Regions from separate parts of the Homo sapiens genome. Here region 1 is linked to region 2. The links come from fine-mapping of genetic effects on gene expression. A gene starts in region 2. The other region holds a variant in brackets. All regions are shown on one strand. Distances are between the middles of the regions.

Region 1 (10,003 bases), 36 kb after region 2:
GTTCTGGATGCTGGAGATATGACAGTGAGCAAGATAGACAGAACCTGTGCTCTCATGAAGCCAATCTTCCCAAAAGGTAGACCTGCACAGGAAACGTACTGGTCAGATTAACCAAAACTAAAAAACATCTAAGTTTAGTCTGATTGAATGAATCTGGGATCAATAAAAAGTCCGTTGGATTTTGGCCTCTCTCCTAAAACTGACACATTTAATTTTCCTACCCAATATCCAGCATTAGACCAGCCAATTCCTTTTGAAATAAGTTTCTAATGATTTATTCATAAATTGCTCCTCTGATTTACCTGGTATTAGAAGGAAAAAATATAATCCAGCTTTGGTTTCCCAAAATCTAGCATTTAATTTGGAAAAATAATTACTTCATGAGGATACCATTCATTAATTAATTCTGCCAATTAACATTTATTGAGCTACTATTCCAGTAAGGTCCCACACTAGGTGTTGTGGAGAAATTTGAGAAACCATGAGACATATTTTTTCCCTACAGGCAAGTTACCATCCAGCACTGGAGATGAGATATAGACAAGAGTCTACAATAGAGCAACTAAAGCTCATGAGCCTAGAGATAGAAAGAAACAGTAATGCAGAGTAGGTAAGATGGACTCGGCTTCAGTAAGACTACATTCTCTTTTTTTTTTTTCTATTTGCTGAAATAATGATGTCATGGCTTTCAACTTAAATTTCCCTTTTATTAACCACTCTCTCTGTCTCTTAAGTGTACTCCTCCTAACATTCCTGAAGACCCTATCTTCCTATGCTGCATCCCCACTGTCCTATCATATCAGCCCCAAGTCTTCTTTCCTTAGCTTAATAGCAAATTTCTCCTAAATGATTAAATACAACCATTCAAATTGCTACCATAATTTTCATTTGGTATTGAAAACATTTACTCTTTGTGTCTTTATCAGTGCCAACTGATCTTAAGTTTAGTCTTACACTACTTAAAATCTTGCATCATCATTTGTCTCAAATCAACCCCTCTTTCTCAGAAACCTGCTAAAAGCCCTGAAGGGCATGCACTTAATTGGACTCTATCCTGATTGAATCCCATAGTCTTCTGGGAATATATCTGGCTCTGCTCAATATTGATTTTGAATCCATATGACAGAGGAAGTTTTTGTGGTAGGAAACAGTCACTGAATTTTCAGGGATGTATTCATTTGCACTACTAAAATTTTTCCTATTTGACTTTCATGCCTATAACTGAAAATTGGCTTATTTCCCCAGCTGAACATTTATTCATATGTTGTGTGTGTGTGTGTGTGCATGTCTGTGTACGTGTGTGTTTGCCTGCTTATTTTTAACCCAGAAAAAAATCAACTTACACTATATGTGGTGCCCTCCCCCTTTCTTTCTATCCCGAATCCACAGCTTAGAATAGGGAATGAGTTTATAAAATATTATTTCAAAACCTCCCATGGTCATGTATCATGTCTGGGTGGTTTCCTCTTATCTCTCAGAAACACTGTGAAAAACAAAGAGAAACCGGCGCTTGTTCGGCTGGATAGAGACCAGTTATGCATGCAGTTCTTTATCTCTGGGAACAGACAAGACCTACCCTCAGTTTACTGATCAGCAAATAAAAACTAAAAACAGAGTTCATTAAAAGCCTGTGTGTGGGGAACACTGAGGAAGAGTATTTTTCGCCCCCGAACAAACAGTACAGAAAGAAGAAGGGAGTTGAGATTCTGGGGTAAGGGCTTGAGCTTGTTCTCCTGTGTCTGCTTTCTCAAATATCCCTCCACTCTCTGCCCCTAGTACACAGGAGCACAAGCATGAGCACACCCACTGCCTCCAAAGATGGCCTCTGTGCTTTTGAGACACTCTGAGATCCTGGGAATGAGGGAGCAGCATTTCCGGTGGGGGAACAAAAATGACTAGGAATGGCAGAGCGGGGCTCCCTGGCCATCAGGCCTTCACCAAACAAACCCAAATTATTCCCTCTCCTGTAGTTGTAGCCCCTAAGATCAATGCATTTGTTGATATTTTGGATGGAATAGATTCTTTTCTTTTTACATTGAATTAAAATAAATTAAGATATTTCAAAAATACGAAGCAAATCTGAGGTGGTTTGGTTTAAACCGTTTTGTTTAGTTTAACTGATTCACTTTACTGACCTTGTGAAATATTCCTATTGGTTTGGCCTGAGTATGAAGAGACAAGAGGGCAATAAAGCTCATACTATATTTCTTGGCCCTGCCTGAAAGTCATGCTATGACTGAACTACCTCCATGCAGAGGAGAGATGACTTTCTTTGAAAAAAAAAAGTCAATAAAAAGGACCAAACCACAGAATGCTGGCCTCACCACTGACTCCTTCCCAAGGCAAGAGTCCTACCTACAGGAAGTGGCAGTCTTTGCTAGCTGTATTTCTTTTTCTAGGCATCAAACACCTCCTGCCCCTCCCCCATCAGCACTGACTGAATATGCGAATAGCAACTAAGTCTTGGGTGTGCCAGTGTCCTAAGGCATACAATGCCAATCAAATTCCTCCTCTCAACAATTTGAAATGCATGTTCAAAAAAAAAAAAAATGAAGCTGTCAGCAATCCCAGCTGCTGCTGAAGACAGGTCAGGAATGGGTCCATGCATAAACTGAGGTCAACAGGGAGTAAGCAGGGGCTGTGATGGAGAAAAACAGAATAAACCACCCAGCAGTGAGAGTGAAAGGAGACTGACCAGCAGTGAGAGTGAAAGGAGACTGACCAAACACCACATGTTCTCACTCATAGGTGGGAATTGAACAATGAGAACACCTGGACACAGGAAGGGGAACATCACACACTGGGGCCTGTCATGGGGTTGGGGGAGGGAGGAGGGATAGCATTAGGAGATATACCTAATGTAAATGACGAGTTAATGAGTGCAGCACACCAGCATGGCGCATGTATACATATGTAACAAACCTGCACATTGTGCACATGTACCCTAGAACTTAAAGTATAAAAAAAAAAACTTGCAAAAACCAGAAAAAGAAAGTTTATTATATCAGTAAAGAGGGATTAGGAAAAAGGACACAAATAAAAAGAATGTGAGTGTGCATATTCACATTATTTCTATTTTCTAATATTGGTAAGTCTTTTAATTAGTTAAAAAACATAAACTTAACTATAAAGAATAACAAAATTGCCAACTCTAAAGACTTTAAAAAGTCATAAAATGAAACAAATTTAACTGCATGTCAAGTTAAAGGCATAACCGCACAGATAAAATAATTAATTTTTTAAATAATGGTTTTTTTCATTGTGGAAGACAGTGTGGCGATTCCTTAAAGATCTAGAACTAGAAATACCATTTGACCCAGCCATCCCATTACTGGGTATACACCCAAAGGATTATAAATCATGCTGCCGTAAAGACACATGCACATGTATGTTTCTTGCTGCACTATTCACAATAGTAAAGACTTGGAACCAACCCAAATGTCCATCAGTGATAGACTGGATTAAGAAAATGTGGCATATATACACCATGGAATACTATGCAGCCATAAAAAAGGATGAGTTCTTGTCCTTTGTAGGGCCATGGATGAAGCTGGAAACCATCATTCTGAGCAAACTATCTCAAGGACAGAAAACCAAACACCACATGTTCTCATTCATAGGTGGAAATTGAACAATGAGAACACCTGGACACAAGGTGGGGAACATCACACACTGGGGCCTGTCGTGGGGTGGGGGGAGGGAGGAGGGATAGCATTAGGAGATATAAATGACAAGTTAATGGGTGCAGCACACCAACATGGCACATGTATACATATGTAACGAACCTGCACATTGTGCACATGTACCCTAGAACTTAAAGTATAATAATAAAAAAAAAGAGAAAAAAAAAAGAGAGTGAAAGGAGACTGCAGCAGATATGCTAAAAGAAACAATGATACCAAGAGAGAAAGTTAAAGAAAAGTAGCTCGTCCTTATAGCTCCCTCTTCCTAACAGTTTAGGGCTACTCCCTTTAGGGCTTCCTACCAATTTTCCATACAATACCCACCCCCATACTCCGCCCTTTCTTTTTAGTCATTTGAGAGTCTCAGTTTCTTGCAAAAAGAGCCTAACTAGAATAGATATGAATATAAAGCCAAACCTTTCATTTGTCGTTTCATCCCTCACATAAACACATCAGTTTTCCTACCTACCATACTAGATCCTTTCACTCAAAATAACAAAGATACCTGCATCTATGGTGCATGATAAGGTACATGCTAAGACTCTTCTGGGCATGGGACCCGGCATTGGGGCTTTTTTTTTTTTTTTTCCCTGAGATGGAGTTTCACTCAGTCACCCAGGCTGGAGTGCAGTGGCACGATCTTGGCTCACTGCAACCTCCACCTCCTGGATTAAAGCAATTCTTCTGCCTCAGCCTCCTGAGTCACTGGGATTACAGGTGCCCACCACCACACCTGGCTAATTTTTTGTGTTTTTAGCAGAGACGGGGTTTCACCATGTTGGCCAGGCTGGTCTCGAATTCCTGACCTCGGGCGATCTGCCCACCTTGGCCTCCCAAAGTGGTGGGATTACAGGCGTGAACCACCACGCCTGGCCGGGATCTTTTTTAAGCTCCCCAGTGGATTACAAAGAGTGGTCAAGGTTGAGAACTACTGCCATAAAATACTAAGTGAGTGCAAAAATAGTTCTTAAAACCAAAGTAATAATAATATAATACAATATAATAATAATGATGAAGACGAGGGCTAAAGGGAAAACTAGCAAAAGAACTCCCAGGTATAAAGAAATGCCTTTGGTGTGAGTCATGGAGGACTCAGAATTATCTGTCCAGTCTTAAATTATCTGTCCTCAAACTTCTGTCAATTGCCCATTTGAGACCTCTGATATCTCTAAGAGGTATATGCTCCTCAAAGTGTGGTCCATGGACCAGCAGTAAAGGTATCCTGATAGAAATTCAAATTCCCAGGCCCCAGCCCAGACCCAGTGAATTAGAAACTGAATTTTATTTGTTTTAATTTATTTTTTATTGTTTTATTTTACTTTAAGTTCTGGGATACATGTGCAGAATGTGCAGGTTTGTTACATAGGTATACGTGTGTCATGGTGGTTTGCTG[T/C]ACCTATTGACCTGTCCTCTAAGTTCCCTCCCCATGCCCCCCATCCCCCAACAGGACCTGGTGTGTGTTGTTCCTCTCCCTGTGTCCATGTGTTCTCATTGTTCAACTCCCACTTATGAGTGAGAACATGCAGTGTTTGGTTTTCTGTTCCTGTGTTAGTTTGCTGAGGATGATGCCTTCCAGCTTCATTCATGTCCCTGCAAAGGACATGATCTCATTCCTTTTTATGGCTGCATAATATTCCGTGGTATATATGTGCTACATTTTCTTTATCCAGTCTATCATTGATGGGCATTTGGGTTGTTTCCATGACTTTGCTATTGTAAATAGTGCTGCAATAAACATACATGTGCATGTGTCTTTATAGTAGAATAATTTATATTCCTTTGGGTATATACCCAGTAATGGGATTACTGGGTCAAATGGTATTTCTGGTTCTAGATCCCTGAGGAATCACCATACTATCTTACACAATGGTTGAACTAATTTACACTCCCACCAACAGTGTAAAAGTCTTCCTATTTCTCCACAGCCTCACCAGCATCTATTGTTTCTTGACTTTTTAATAATTGCCATTCTGACTGGCATGAGATGGTGTCTCATTGTGGTTTTGATTTGCATTTCTCTAATGATCAGTGATGTTGAAATTTTTTTCATGTTTTTTGGCCATGTAAATGTCTTCTTTTGAGAAGTGTCTGTTCAGATCTTTGCCCACTTTTTGTAGGGTTGTTTTTTTCTTGTAAATTTGTTTAAGTTCCTTGTAAATTCTGGATATTAGACCTTTGTCAGATGAGTAGATTGCAAAAATTTTCTCCCATTCCGTATGTCACCTGTTCACTCTGATGAAAGTTTCTTTTGCTGTGCAGAAGCTCTTTAGTTTAATTAGATCCCATTTGTCAATTTTGGCTTTTGTTGCAATTGCTTTTGGCGTTTTCGTCATGAAGTCTTTGCCCATGCCTGTGTCATGAATGGTATTGTCTAGGTTTTCTTCTAGGGTTTTTATGGTTTTGGGTTTTACATTTAAGTCTTTAATCCATCTTGAGTTAATTTTTGTATAAGGTGTAAGGAAGGGGTACAGTTTCTGTTTTCTGCACATGGCTAGCCAAGAAACTGAATTTTAAAAAGATCACCAGATGGTAGCATATGCCCATGAAAGTTTGAGAAGCACTGGCTTAAGATACATTAGCTATAAATTATTTAAATTTCCCAATATTAGGTTAGGTCCTGACAACACTGTATATCTGGAGTATACAAATCTGGCTTTCCACAGATTATTTTTTCTAACTATGACTATCGTGGCTTTGGTTTCTATATAAAGGAAAGGTTGATTTTTTAAAAAAAGACAAGTTTTGTAAAACTGCTGTTGAAGATATTGTTCACAGTTTTCTAACGCCTCTGTATGAAGGCCTAAGTGATAAGCTACCCTCATAGCCCACCTAACAAAGTGAAGTGAGAGTTTGTCTTAGTCTTGAGGGCCAAAAGGCAGAGTTAATTCCTGTGCTTAGTGCAGAAACTTCCTTTACCCTAGGGGTTTTGCTATAAACATTTTACCTCTTAAACCTTAATCCATGTTGAATGGTTAATGGTTTCACTGTATTTGTGAATTTTTGTTGTAAACCACCCCAAACACGTTTTTGGAAGTGGGTAGAGCCCAAGGAAACATTTTTACAATATACGGAGTATGCGTCTTAAGGTGACAATGAATTATTAGTGCAGAAGTACAGTTCTAAGTCTGACCTGACAGGCAATCCTTACAGAATCTGAAACAACTGTAAGGAGGTGCTAGACTTCCCACCCTAGGCCTTGCTCAAGCACCACCAACATTATCATGCAAGAGTCCAAAATGCCCTGAGTGCCCATCTGCATAGAATGCAGGGTCACTCTGATATCATAGCAAACATATATGTAACAGAGTAAGAATCTGATATTAACTTAATGTTTTCACCCAGCAATTTATTTCACCCAATCCTTTGCCTCATCATCCTGTTGGTAGGATAGGCTTCTGCCTAGAGAAAGAAGCCATCTGACTACCCAATAAACATCAAAATGACTTTTTTGTATGTCTTTTTTTAAAGTTAGAGCTACTGGAATGAGACAAATGACTTTTGATACGCATGAACAATAAAGAAAAAAGTTTTTGGGTTGTTAGATCCTGGGTTTTGTTTTGTTTTTTTGTTTTTTTGTTTTTTTGATGAAGTCTTGCCCTGTCGCCCAGGCTGGAGTGCAGTGGCATGATCTCAGCTCACTGCAAGCTCTGTCTCCCAGGTTCATGCCATTCTCCTGCCTCAGCCTCCCAAGTAGATGGGACTACAGGCGCCTGCCACCACGCCTGGCTAATTTTTTGTATTTTTAGTAGAGACGGGGTTGCACCCTCTTAGCCAGGATGGTCTCGATTTCCTGACCTCGTGATCTGCCCGCCTCGGCCTCCCAAAGTGCTGGGATTACAGGTGTGAGCCACCACACCCAGCCTCCTGGGTATTTTTAATACTTAAAATTGATACCATAAAACAATGGATTTGAAGGATAGTTCCGAATAAACTCAGGATGGAGATACAAGCTGTTCAAGGTGGGATGAGTTGACATAGAAAAGAAACCAGAAGTTGAAAGTCAGTGTGAGTGTGGTGTTCCTGCTTTCCTACCTCCATCCCATCATGCCAAGCCTTAGGAGTCTTACAACAGGCCTCCAGACAGGTTTGAGGATCTACAGTTTGTTAGGATATGTGCCTCCCTTTTGCCTGGAACTCAGGAAGATGGCAGCCTCAGAGGTGTGTCTCTTGCTTCAGGGTCTGGGACCAGCAAAAGAGATACCACCACGTGGCCTGTCCCACATGAAACAGCAGAAGATGATCCTGAGTTTCCTATGGGCACCAGAACAGAGTAGTAAAACATCTCATCTCCAAAATTAAACTTATTTTTTAAAATTCCCAGTCCAAATTATTTCAAATTAAAAAGTTAGAGAAATTGTTTATACAAAGTCAATATTCACAAGTGGTTAAATTTTTACTTCCTATATCTCTTTGGGGTTGTAGTTCACTTGGAATCCACTAGGTTACAAGAAAGAGCCAGGCCTTTCAGGAAATCTCTGTAGCAGATAAAGATTTACTTAAGGTATTGAGAAGACAGAAACTTGGAGGAGCTTCTTTGAGGAAGAACATCATGAGCACTCTTACAGTGCATAGTGACCTCCAGAGAACATCATGAGCAGAAAAGGTGTTGAGCAAGCTTAAAGATACAAAATAGGGCTTAAGAAAAACCTTCAAGTAGGAAACTGATCTTGACAAACTGAATAATTCATGAGTATTATGTGCAAAGCCTATGCTAGGTTGGAGAAACATGGAATCTTAATAATGAGACTAAGTAGACATGCAAAACATTTAAATAATGAAATATTCAGCATTCATTTAAATCCTAAAAGTAGTACTGTAAAGGAGTAACGTGAATGGAGTAAATATTGGCTTCATAGAGGAAGAGGAATATGAGCTGAGCTTTGAAGGACAAGTAGGAAGTGGGTAAATGAAAGCATGGGGAAGAGAGCATTTTTAACTTATTGGATGATGGGGAGAGTCCTGTGTATTGGGGCAATGCTTCAAAAACCTCAAGGTGCACACACATTACTTGGGGCTCTTGATAAAAAACAAAGATTCTAATTCGGTAGGTCTAGGATGGGGCCAGGATTCTGTTACTAACAAGCTCCTTGTTACAACAGTAGTGATGCTGAGGCTGACACTGCTGGTTCATCAACCACACTTGAAGTAGCAAAGGATTATGAAAATAGAGAGGCTGGTTGCAGCAGAGGATTTCTTTTGGAAAAGGTGAGAAGTTAGACCGAAGGAACAATAGAAGTTCCCAACGACATTCAAGGCAGCGAGAGGAAGCATCAAGCAAAAGTGTTGCATATTATCATTTAAATGATTAGATTACCCAGAAAAGGGACACAGCAACGATAAGAAATTCTCTTCCAATATTCTGCATGTAAGACAGACATGTCCATATTTGCATGCTCCACTGAGGAGCTCTTTTAGCCAGTGTGGCCAGGTTTGTTATTTTCTTAACTGGTCTCTAAATGGGGCATGTGTGCTGGTGCAGAATGAGCAAGTCCCTTCCATCTGGTTTTCCTGATGCTCCCTGATCATTATTATGCTGGGCTATGAGGAATAGGAAGCAGGTTGCTCTAGTTGATGATTATCCTCCAGTCATTAAAGGGATTCAGCATGGAATTTCAGTTATAAACATTTGGTCCCAGGTACCATTTCACAGTTGTTTCTTTTCCCTTCTCATGTGAAGAAACATAAACCCAGAAAACACTAGAAACCAGAAAAGAAAAACAGGTTTTACCCCATTCTTACAGCCTGACTGCTGGCTTTAAAGATTTATCAGAAGTAGCTGGTAACCCAGTCTGCACCAACTGTCACTAGATGATTTTATTCTCTTTCTTCTAAGACACTAAATGTCTCAGAGCACAAGCTTCCTTATCTACAAAAACAGGATTACGTTTGCCCCACCTATCTCCTCAGGTAATAATGAGACTCTTATGAAAAAGCAGTTCCCAACGTTTGACTGCATACTGCAATCACCTGGGGAGCTTTTAAAAATCCCAATGCCCTGTCCACACCCGACACTGATTACATCAGACTCTCTGGGCGTGGGACCCAGGGATGAGTATCCTTTTTAAGCTCTCCACGTTATTACAAAGAGTGTCAAGGTTGAGAACTGCTGACATGAAATACTGAATGAATGCAAAAGTAGTTTTAAAAAGCAAAGTAATAATACTATGATTATGATAATGAAGAAGAGGAGGGCTACAGGGAAAATATGGAAAAGACCTCCCGAGTATAGAGAAATGCCTTTGGTCTGAGTCATGGAGGAATGGAAGGAGAAACCTGATGTGCACATGAATGAACATGCTGGGTCAGGCCAGAAGTCTACT
Region 2 (10,003 bases):
AAACTGAATACTCAAGGTAGTTTTTCAGTATCATCTACACCAAGGGACAGCAAATTTTCTGTGAAGTATTTATAAAAAAGTAAATATTTTATGATTCACACGCCATGGTCTCTGTTGCAACTGCTCAAGTCTGTCTCTGCAATGTGAAAGCAGTTGTAGCCAGTACATAAACCAGTGAGCAACGCTGTGTTCCAATAAGACTTTACCTACTAAAACAGGTGATGGGGGTATTAGGCCTGTGGGGTACAGTTTGCTAACCCCAATGTAGATAATCAGTAGGTTGATCCTTATTTTTTACTTTATCCCATTTTCAAGCATCATATATCCCACTTTTCAAGTATCATAGCAGAAGGAGCTTATTCCTTAGCTGAAATCATGCATGCTGATGTGAGCATAAATAATCTGTGGTACCAGAGACCCTAATTAAAATACTTTTTCCAAAGAAATACTATAATTTCCAATAAGCCACATTATCTTCACATGACACACATGCTCTGTAAGCCTACACAAAACCCAAATTGGTTAAATAGAAAATGCTGCAAAACCTTTGAAAAGCCACTTGCTTAATCTCACTGAACCTCAATTCCTGGACTGTAAAAATAAGATAATGACAGTTAACTCACAGGGTTTTACCATGGATGAAATTAAATACTGTATGTAAAAGCACCTTGCAAATGAAAAAAAAATTCTCTTCAAATGTAGACTATTAATATTTTAAATTCTTTATAAAGTTTAATATAGAAAGATATACTATGGTGAATCATTTTGCAATGTTCTGGAAAGGTTTCGGGAACTTCTTAGCCTTTATTTTATAAGCTCAGATTTTTCATGTACCATTTTTTCCTCACTATACCAGTAATAAAAAAGAAATGAGGGGAATTCCTTGAAATTGTAACTCATTTATATTTATTCCTCCCAATTAATTTATAAAAATTAGCATAAATGTAAAAGAATGATAAACAGAATTTTTAAAATGTTTTTGTGTTTTAGGTAAGAGATCTTTTCCCTGCTCTGGTTTGCTAGAGTATCTATTATAATGCGCAATAAGATTTTCCTTAAAATTATAAATAAATTCAAGGCATTATCCAAAGTTCGTATCATTCAAACTCAGGCTTAATGTGAAAACAATCATAAAAACTGTAACTACCATTTTAAATACAAGACTGATACAAATGAAATATGGTGCTCTCCCTATGCCTCCCTAAAGGAAAGAAGGAGCAAAGCCTAGTTAGTAGTATTTAGTCCAGAATCATTAGTGTAATGTATTGCAGTTTAACTGGGCCATCGTGCTGCATGAACTCAAACGCAGCATCTACCTAGCAAAAACACGAGTTTGGCTAGTACTCATCCAAAGGCAAGAAGAGTTAAACTGTCAAAAAACAATTTAGAAATATTATTAAATCCAATCCATAAGGAAGGGGGTAAGAATCACCATGCCTCTCCTTTGTTTGAGGGAAATAATTTTTATCTTTATGTAAAGCTGATGTCTTAGAGTTAAAACAGAATCAAACAGTCAGCAGGAAGAAATTCCAGTAAGATATTAAGTCAGGCTAATACACAAGAACAAACTGCTTTTCTTTTAATCTGGAAGCTAAGAGACTTGGAACCACATTTTGTATCTCAGCTCTAAGGTCATGGGTCCAATAACTCCTTGAAATAAATCAGCTGCATTAGAATCAGTGACTCCTTGTTGATGGAAGGGGTTTGCCTGTTGTTTTGTTTTTTATCTTTTATTTTGTTTTTGCTCCAAGAAGACAATGGCCCATTCAGAACTTTCTGGAAATAGGTCTTTTTATAGTGTTGAAACTTTATATATAGCTGAGAAGTTATCTCTTCAAAGCACCAAAAGTTTTCTTTCCTTAATAAAGTTAAAATATTTTTATGGTAAAAACTGAAAAATATAGAAAAGTAGATAATTGTTTTATTATATAGTTTTATATATTTTCCAGGATATTATCACTCATAACCCCACTATTCAGAAATTATTATTCTTAACATCTTGGTATGTTTCCTTGAGTTCAGGTTTATACTTGTCATCCTGTTTTTATATATATTATGTCATTAGCTTTGTCTTGGGTTACTCTTCGTGTTTAGAAACACTTTAAATGGCAGCAATGATAGGGTATTATCATTTATTGGATTGCCAAGATGACCAAACTTTTTCTTAATTTAAAATGGAACTACTAATAGAATGTACTACACAGTCCTCTGCTTTCTTCCACTGAGCATAGGGAATATAATTAGCTCTTTTTAAGGAGGCTTGAGAACATAGTCTGAGGCCTCATTTTCTTCACCTACAAAATGGGGACAATTACGTCTATGTCATGGTGAGGATTCAATGAATTGAGGCATGTAAGTACATATCAAACCATCTAGCACAAGAAGCTTTTGAGAAATGTCAGTTCCCCTTTTTCCTGTTACTCCACTTAAACATTATCTGTTTTCTTCTCACAGATAATGTTAAGAAATGATAAGGCCGGGCACGGTGGCTCACGCTTGTGGTCCCAGCACTTTGGGAGGCCGAGGCAGGCGGATCACGAGGTCAAGAGATTGAGACCATCCTGGCTGGCACGGTGAAACCCCGTCTCTACTAAAAATACAAAAAAATAAAATTAGCCGGGCGTGGTGGCGGGCGCCTGTAGTCCCAGCTACTCAGGAGGCTGAGGCAGAAGAATGGCGTGAACCTGGGAAGCGGAGCTTGCAGTGAGCTGAGATCGCGCCACTGCACTCCAGCCTGGGCGACAGAGCAAGACTCCGTCTCAAAAAAAAAAAAAAAAAAAGAAAGAAAGAAAGAAAGAAAGAAAGAAAGAAATGATAAGTGCCCTGCCCAAAGTCAGATCACACTTATTTTACTGAGCAAGAATACAGTCCAGACCACAGGGCTTACCTGGCTAGGAAGGACTAACTCTCTCCTCACTAAATGGCTCCAGGTTGCAGGACTTTTAAAATTCCCCTCCCTCCCTTTCTTTTTCCCCAGACTCTTCCCCAGCTATCAAGAAGTCAGCAGCAACCTCCCACTCCTGCCAGTGTACCTGTTTATTTTCCTTTCTAGGATTCTGCAGCTTCTGGAGGCTGAGAAATTTGTTCACCAAGTTTGCTGTGACTGTGTGCAAACTACAAGTCAGTAGTTTGTGTGTCAGCTGGAACAGTTTTCTTTAATATGAGGTGCAAAAATTTTATGGCCAGGCGTGGTAGCTCATGCCTGTAATTCCAGCACTTTGGGAGGCCTGGGCAGGAGGATCATTTCAGCTCAGGAGTTCCAGACCATACTGGGCAACATAGAGAGAACTTTAGGAGGCCCAGACAGGAGGATCACTGGAACTCAAGAGCTCGAGACCAGCCTGGGCAACATAGGGAGACTCTGTCTCTACAAAAAATACAAAAAAAAAGAAAGAAAAAAGAAAATTAGCCAGGCATGATGGCGCTTGCCTGCAGTCCTAGCTACTCTGGAGACTGAGGCAGGAGTATCACTTGTGCCCAGGAGGTGGAGGATGCAATGAGCTATGATCTTGCTACTGCACTCCAGCCTGGCTGATAAAGCAAGACCTTGTCTCAAAAAAAAAAAAATTATAACTTTGTAAAATTTATCTTGCTCCTCAATGTGTGTGTGTGCGTGTGTGTGTGTGTGTGTGTGTGTGTGTGTGTAAGAGAGAGAGAGAAAGAGAGAGAGAGAGAGAGAGATTTCCTGGTAGGGCTAGCTGAATTTTCTGGCAGCTGAGGTGTCTCTCTGGCCTTTCCATCTCTTCAAATTCCTCTGTCGCCTATGTCTAAAATTCAGTATTATAAACTTATTTCTAATCCAAATGGACGGCCTTTGTTTTGCTTTTCCTATAGTGATGAAAGGTACTAAAACAACACATTTTAAACTCCTTAGATAAGCCAGTCTGTTTTATTACCATGTATTTCTACTTGCTTTGTGTTAATAAAAATTAATTTCCAGAAATGTCACCAACAGTTTTTCTTTACTTAACACACAGCAAGTTTTGTTTTCATGGTGCATTGTGCACCAGCTTTAATGGCTACGTTTATAAGTTTGCCAGGGCCGGAAGACATTTCTAGAACCCCATATGTTTCCATATCCCATAATATTCGTAACGCCACCAAGAGAAAAGAATGGTGCATGGATTTCTTGACTTCCCTATGAGAATTAAATACTGTTAAAGCTTTTAGAACAGTGCTTGGCACACAGTAAGCTCCATGTGTTTGATAAATTAAAATTAAATCACCTGTACATGCTGTCCCCGTAACCACAGCTTAGAACACACTTCCCAAGGGTTTGTGACAACACAAGCCAATCCTGTCAGAGCCTACTTGACCCCAGAGAAACCAATGTCTTTAATGAGGTTGAACCACAAGAAACTGCCATTTTTGTTGGTCAATTTCAGTTGAATGTTGGCTATTTCATTTGACGGAACCTAACAGGAATTCAGTGTGCCCCAACTTTATAACCATTATGCCATGATTCGTCGCGTTCCTGACTGGAATAATGGGGCTGAGGGGCATGGCGGACCGGCTTGGGGCTCAGCCACCTGTCTCCACAGGAAAACCGCCTCCCTCCACTCGAGCAGGTGGGGAGATCAGGCTACAGGACCGAGGCTGCGGCCTGGGGCTGGCTCTGGGCTTCTGCACGCACCTGAAAAGGGGCCCAAGTTGCAGCAGGTGCAGCAGCAGTACGAGCGGGCGGTCGCGGCTGAGGTCGCGGTGTACGAAGAGAAGCGTGAGCTGCACGAGCGCGCAAGGCAGTAGCGAGAAAAGCAACGTCAGCGCCTGCCACATGCGGTCCCCGCCCGAGCGGTAGGTGCTGCTCAGGCTGAGCGCCGCCGTTGTCTCGGCCACGAACAGGAACACGGACGCCAGCACCGAGGCCGGGAATTTCATCTCCGCGCGTCAGCGGCGCTCACCGGGGACGGACGCAGTGGCGGCGGCTGTGTGGCTGTGGCGGCGGCGGCCGTTGCCCGAGGGGCTCCCAGCATGCCCAGCCCCAAACCGCTCCCGCGCTCTGCGCAGCCCGCCGAGGGCACGCGGGCCCGGCCGACCGGCCTGGGCTCTGGAACTGGACCTGGTGGGGGCGGCCGACCTGGCTGGGGTGGGGTGGGGTGGGGCGAGCTGCGCAGCCCCGCCGGGACACGCCCACGCGCTCCGTGCGCCGCCTGCTCGCTCGCTCGCCAGTGCCGGCTGCGTCTCTGTGGTGACCGTCCCCTGGCGGGCCGCGAACCCGCGCCCTACGACGGCTCAGGCCATGGAGCGGGAGCTCAAAAGGATGCAGTTCGCCCTGCGGGCGTCGCGCGCAGCCTCTGGGTCCTAGAGTCCCTTGGGTCCTATCTTGGGAAACCGTTCACATCCCTTTGAAAAACTGCAACCACCCGGGCCCAGAATTGGAGTCCGGGCGCCTTTCTAGCCCAGTCTATTTTCTGGGCCGAGGAAACGCGTGATTCTTCAAAGGGCCAGCATTTCTGGCCTTTTAAAAATAACCAGACCACACAGAGGCTTTTCAAAGTGCAAGTATATTGTCATGCACCCACCACCAAGTGGGAAAAGATTTCACTTTTCACTGTGCCATGTGAGCATGTCCCTTTGTCTTCCAAATACAGTGGTCTGAAGCATTGCTTCCAGTGGTGAAAAGGCGTCAAAGATCGTCTCTAGGAACCTGTCCTTACCTCCCAGAAAAACTGCCTACAAAATATATTCCTCTGTAACTGTAAGTAATTCAGGGCAAAGATCAGGGCCTAATAAGGAAGTAGTTTTTTTTATTCCAAGACAGACCTCTGCTTATTGGTGTGCCAATACCAAGACTAACACAACTCCTTTTAGCCCATTGAACTTTCCACCATCTTCTTGATATCAGGATGTACTCAGTCCACCCCCGTCCCTCAGACCTCGATCAAGTCACTAAATCTTTCTGAAACTCAGGTTCCATAAAGGGATTAGACTTAAATAATTATAAGATCTCTTCCCCTGTTGAAATTGGGTGATTTCAATCTTCAGGCATCTCTGGCATTTTTCTATTTAGGAAAATAATGTAAACACAAATAGAATATAAAGATTCAAAAGGAATCAAACCAAAAAAGAGGTACAGGGAGAGAATGTGGTGGGCTGTTTTTCTGTTTTTTATGTGGCATGAGAAAATCCATTTATGAGTTAAGGGGCAGATTCAGCCAGCAGCTGAGAGGTAGCAGGCCCTTTCCCTAAAAGGATTACTAATGTCTATTTATAGAACCCAGAAGGCCACCATGTCCTGGGCCAAGATACATACACTGCCACAAATACAGAATCAGCAGCAACACTCCACAGAGTATTTGTGTAATGTTTTACTTGACATCATGGTTAGCTTTAAAGGAAAAATTGGTAGCTTAGAATTATTAATCAGGACACTGAATATTTAGCATTAGATTTTATTTTAAGGCAAAGGATTATCACAGGTTTTACATTAAGTGTACTGTACATAAATGTATTATAAGGAGGGGCAATAAGCCAATAAATAACATCGCTTTAAACACTATAAAGTCCAGTTTATAGCGAATTATTTTCTACAGTACAAAACGAATACAGAAAACACATTTGGAAAGATCACAGTGTTTAGAACATTGTAACAGCAGTTGTAAAAACCATAAAGTGCATCTCTAAGCTTCTGACTCTATCTTGCTTATAGAGATTTCATTATACCATGCAGTGGGCTGTGAGCAAACTCCCACATGAAAGGGAAGCAATATCAACTGACTAGTACTATCCCCTGCAGAACAACCAATAACAAAAGCTAAATTCTGATGAGCATTTGCAAGTTGATCCTTCTTAGTCTGCACACCAGCTAACTTGCTCCAGTGATCACGTCTTTCTGTATTATCATTTGCCATTTTGTCCTTGAAAATAATATATATCTTATAGCTTATGATTGCTAATTTCCCTGTCAGACACCTCAATGGGTTTTGACTAAAGATTAATGTCATGTATTGCATTATACTTTTTCACTAGGACCAAAATACCCATTATTTTTAAAAATATTATGTACATAATAATAGACTTATAGAAAGTGATGTTTTGGTATATTAATATGTAACATACCAGAATACTTGAGAATTTGGTTTTATTATAAAATACAGTAGTATGACATTTTGTGATATAGTAAAATATCTGGCAAAATATTCTACTCTAAATTTAGACCTAATTGCTGCAGATGTCTTTGAAAGAGCCTCAAAGTGCCCCTAAGGAAATATAACAATTAGCAAGAGGTCATATAACCTGTTATGGCAAAGACATTTTTAAAAAGCCTTTCATTTTGTGTCCGAGTCTTTCAAAATTTTACTTGTATACAACAGATAAGTGCTGTTTGATTTAGTGCTAATGGAAATTAGTAGGATTTTAAAGTAGTAACAACCAATCACTATTATTTTTTTTTATAATTTTATGTTTTTAACTCTGCATTTGTGCCAAGGCAAATATATTGCAAATAGTACAATTTTATTAATAATACTAATTCTTTGATCAGTTCCTCAAAATTCAGTAGTACTTTAAATAATAGTAGTTATTCATTCCTAGATACAATTTGAAATAAGCAGTTATACTATATTGACAGAGTATTTCTTTGTACCTCCTCATAAGTAAGAAATTGCCCTAATGTGCAGTTTGTGAAATGTATCATTAGGAAGGTGAGCTTTGTTTTTTTCAATGATACAATTATATTTCTGTAAGTATTGTGATTTATGCCAAAAAAGCTTTTTGGAGCAGTAAATTCTATTCGCTGGGAAATACACATTCCAAAACTAACATGTGGTGCTTGACCCAGTATATATTCACCAGTATATGGCTTTGCAAAGTGCTCCCCCTAATAATTTGATTCTACGAAATCCATTTTTTAATGTTTGTTAATTTAGAGCCATTGGATTAAAGATATTAAAATTCAGACTTCCAAGAAGAGTTCCCCCAGATGTTCAAAGTTGAGAAAGCTGTACCTTTTCAAAGATTGGGCCGTCCTTCCTTAACAGATTCTAAAACCAAACTTCTGCACTTAGAATATTCCATTTCTACTGCTAGAGAGTCTATGTGCAACTCATGTTACATTTTGCATTTTCAAGAACATAGGGATTCTACTGCTGCTACAGTATTCAAAAGACATCTTTAATATTGAAATAGCAAAGTCCTAAAAAACAAAGACAAAACGGATGATCTAAATCAATCCACATGTTTGAATATATCCACATATAAGGGTTACCACATTCAATATGAACCAAATTCAGCAGCAGAATTAATTATATTGGTAACTGCCACTTAAGCATAGATTTTAAAATGAAACTTGTGGGGACAACGTCAGAGACCCCACTAAAACCAAGTTGCAAAAAGATCACTTGTTAAAGATTGACAGTAGTCAATTATAGTCTGTATCTTTAAAACTGACTGCTATGTCACAGCTACTTCATACATATTACTAGAACAGTACACATTAAAGCATGTACATTGTCACCACACACAAAATATAAAAATATTGGGAGGCCGAGGCGGGCGGATCACGAGGTCAGGAGATCGAGACCATCCCGGCTAAAACGGTGAAACCCCGTCTCTACTAAAAATACAAAAAATTAGCCGGGCGTAGTGGCGGGCGCCTGTAGTCCCAGCTACTTGGGAGGCTGAGGCAGGAGAATGGCGTGAACCCGGGAGGCGGAGCTTGCAGCGAGCCGAGATCCCGCCACTGCACTCCAGCCTGGGCGACAGAGCGAGACTCCGTCTCAAAAAAAAAAAAAAATAAAAAAATAAAAATAAAAATAAAACATCAGCAAGAATTGCATTACTCTACTTAAGAAACTGTATGTATTTGGTGTTTACACATATACACATTCACATATCCCCCACCACACCCCCACATCTTTTTAGAGTGTTCACCGTTTCTGAAAGAATAAGAGGAAGGTATATATTTTGGTACTTTCTGAAGATCTATGTCCAAGTGCAAGACTTTAAAGCCATCTGTTGGTTTCAATTTAGGAGGTGGTTGTTCTAGAACAAAAGAGATATTGTGGCTCTCGGGTGATTCTGAATACAAAGATAAATAGAAATGGGCCCCAAAAGGAGTGGAGAAAGAGAGGAAAACACAAAGTTTTTCTTATGGAGAGACACTTGTGGCAATTTCTAGGATTCTTATAGACACAGAACTCAACAACTAAACAACGTCAAACAGGTTTTTTTACCCAGGAGAGTTTACTCAATCTTTAATATGTTAATGTACCATGTAATCTTCAAAAGGGGGTAAAATAATAAAACTTTCCTAACTTATTTAATCACAGATTAAATTTTTCCACAGGGCAGCTCATGGTACTGCTGGGCTGCATTTGGGGAAATATTGCAGCTCTCGTGTAATAGGCAGGTTCTGTTTACATTTTCTCCCATAACAACGAAGGAAGGTAGGAAGACTTTATCAATACTAGGAAACAGGAATGGGACTGTCCAATACAATAGCCAACTCACATGCAGCTCTTATACACTTGAAATGTGGCTACTTCGAGACTGGAGATGTATAGTAAGTATAAAATACACACTAGAGTTTGAAGACTCAGTACAAAAATGTAAAATAGCTCATTCATGTTTTTATATTGATTGCATATTGAAATGCTATCATTTTGGATATATAAGGCTAAGTCAAATACATTATTAAAATTAATTTCATCTTTTTCTTTTACCTTTTTGGTAGCTACTAGAAAATTTGAAAATTGCATATGTGGTTTGCATTCGTGGCTCACAGCACAATTCTAGCAGACACTGCTGCTGTATTTGTGAAACTCATGGCTGTTATCTTCTACAGATGGTTACTAATGGCTTCAACCTAGCAGAAGTTTTAATAAGCTTAGTCAAGCTTAATAAATAAGTTTAATAAACTTAATCAACTTAGCTTGAACATATCCTTTCACTGAGATCTATCTAATAGCTAAATGTTGGCTTTTGATTCATATGCGATATTGACTCTCCTTAAGTCAGTCTCATTCTTTTTCACTCAACTACTTACACACACACACACACACAC

What was found.
Region 1: its variant is fine-mapped to the expression of XK in whole blood (TOPMed, PIP above 0.99).

What each region holds. Positions count from the first base shown.
Region 1 is chrX:37,644,575-37,654,577 of GRCh38, reverse strand. The region is part of intron 1 of LANCL3 (LanC like family member 3); the gene reads right to left. Among named protein-coding and RNA genes, the nearest start is that of XK, 36 kb to the left of the region's middle. The variant T/C (reference allele first, on the strand shown) is at 5,077.
Region 2 is chrX:37,680,837-37,690,839 of GRCh38, reverse strand. XK (X-linked Kx blood group antigen, Kell and VPS13A binding protein) reads right to left here and starts at 5,049. Exons shown (of 3, transcript NM_021083.4): 1 at 4,634-5,049. The coding sequence starts at 4,878. It overlaps LANCL3 (LanC like family member 3), which reads right to left. Exons shown (of 5, transcript NM_001170331.2): 5 at 6,377-10,003. RefSeq lists enhancers at 4,237-4,746, 4,747-5,258 and a silencer at 4,928-5,307.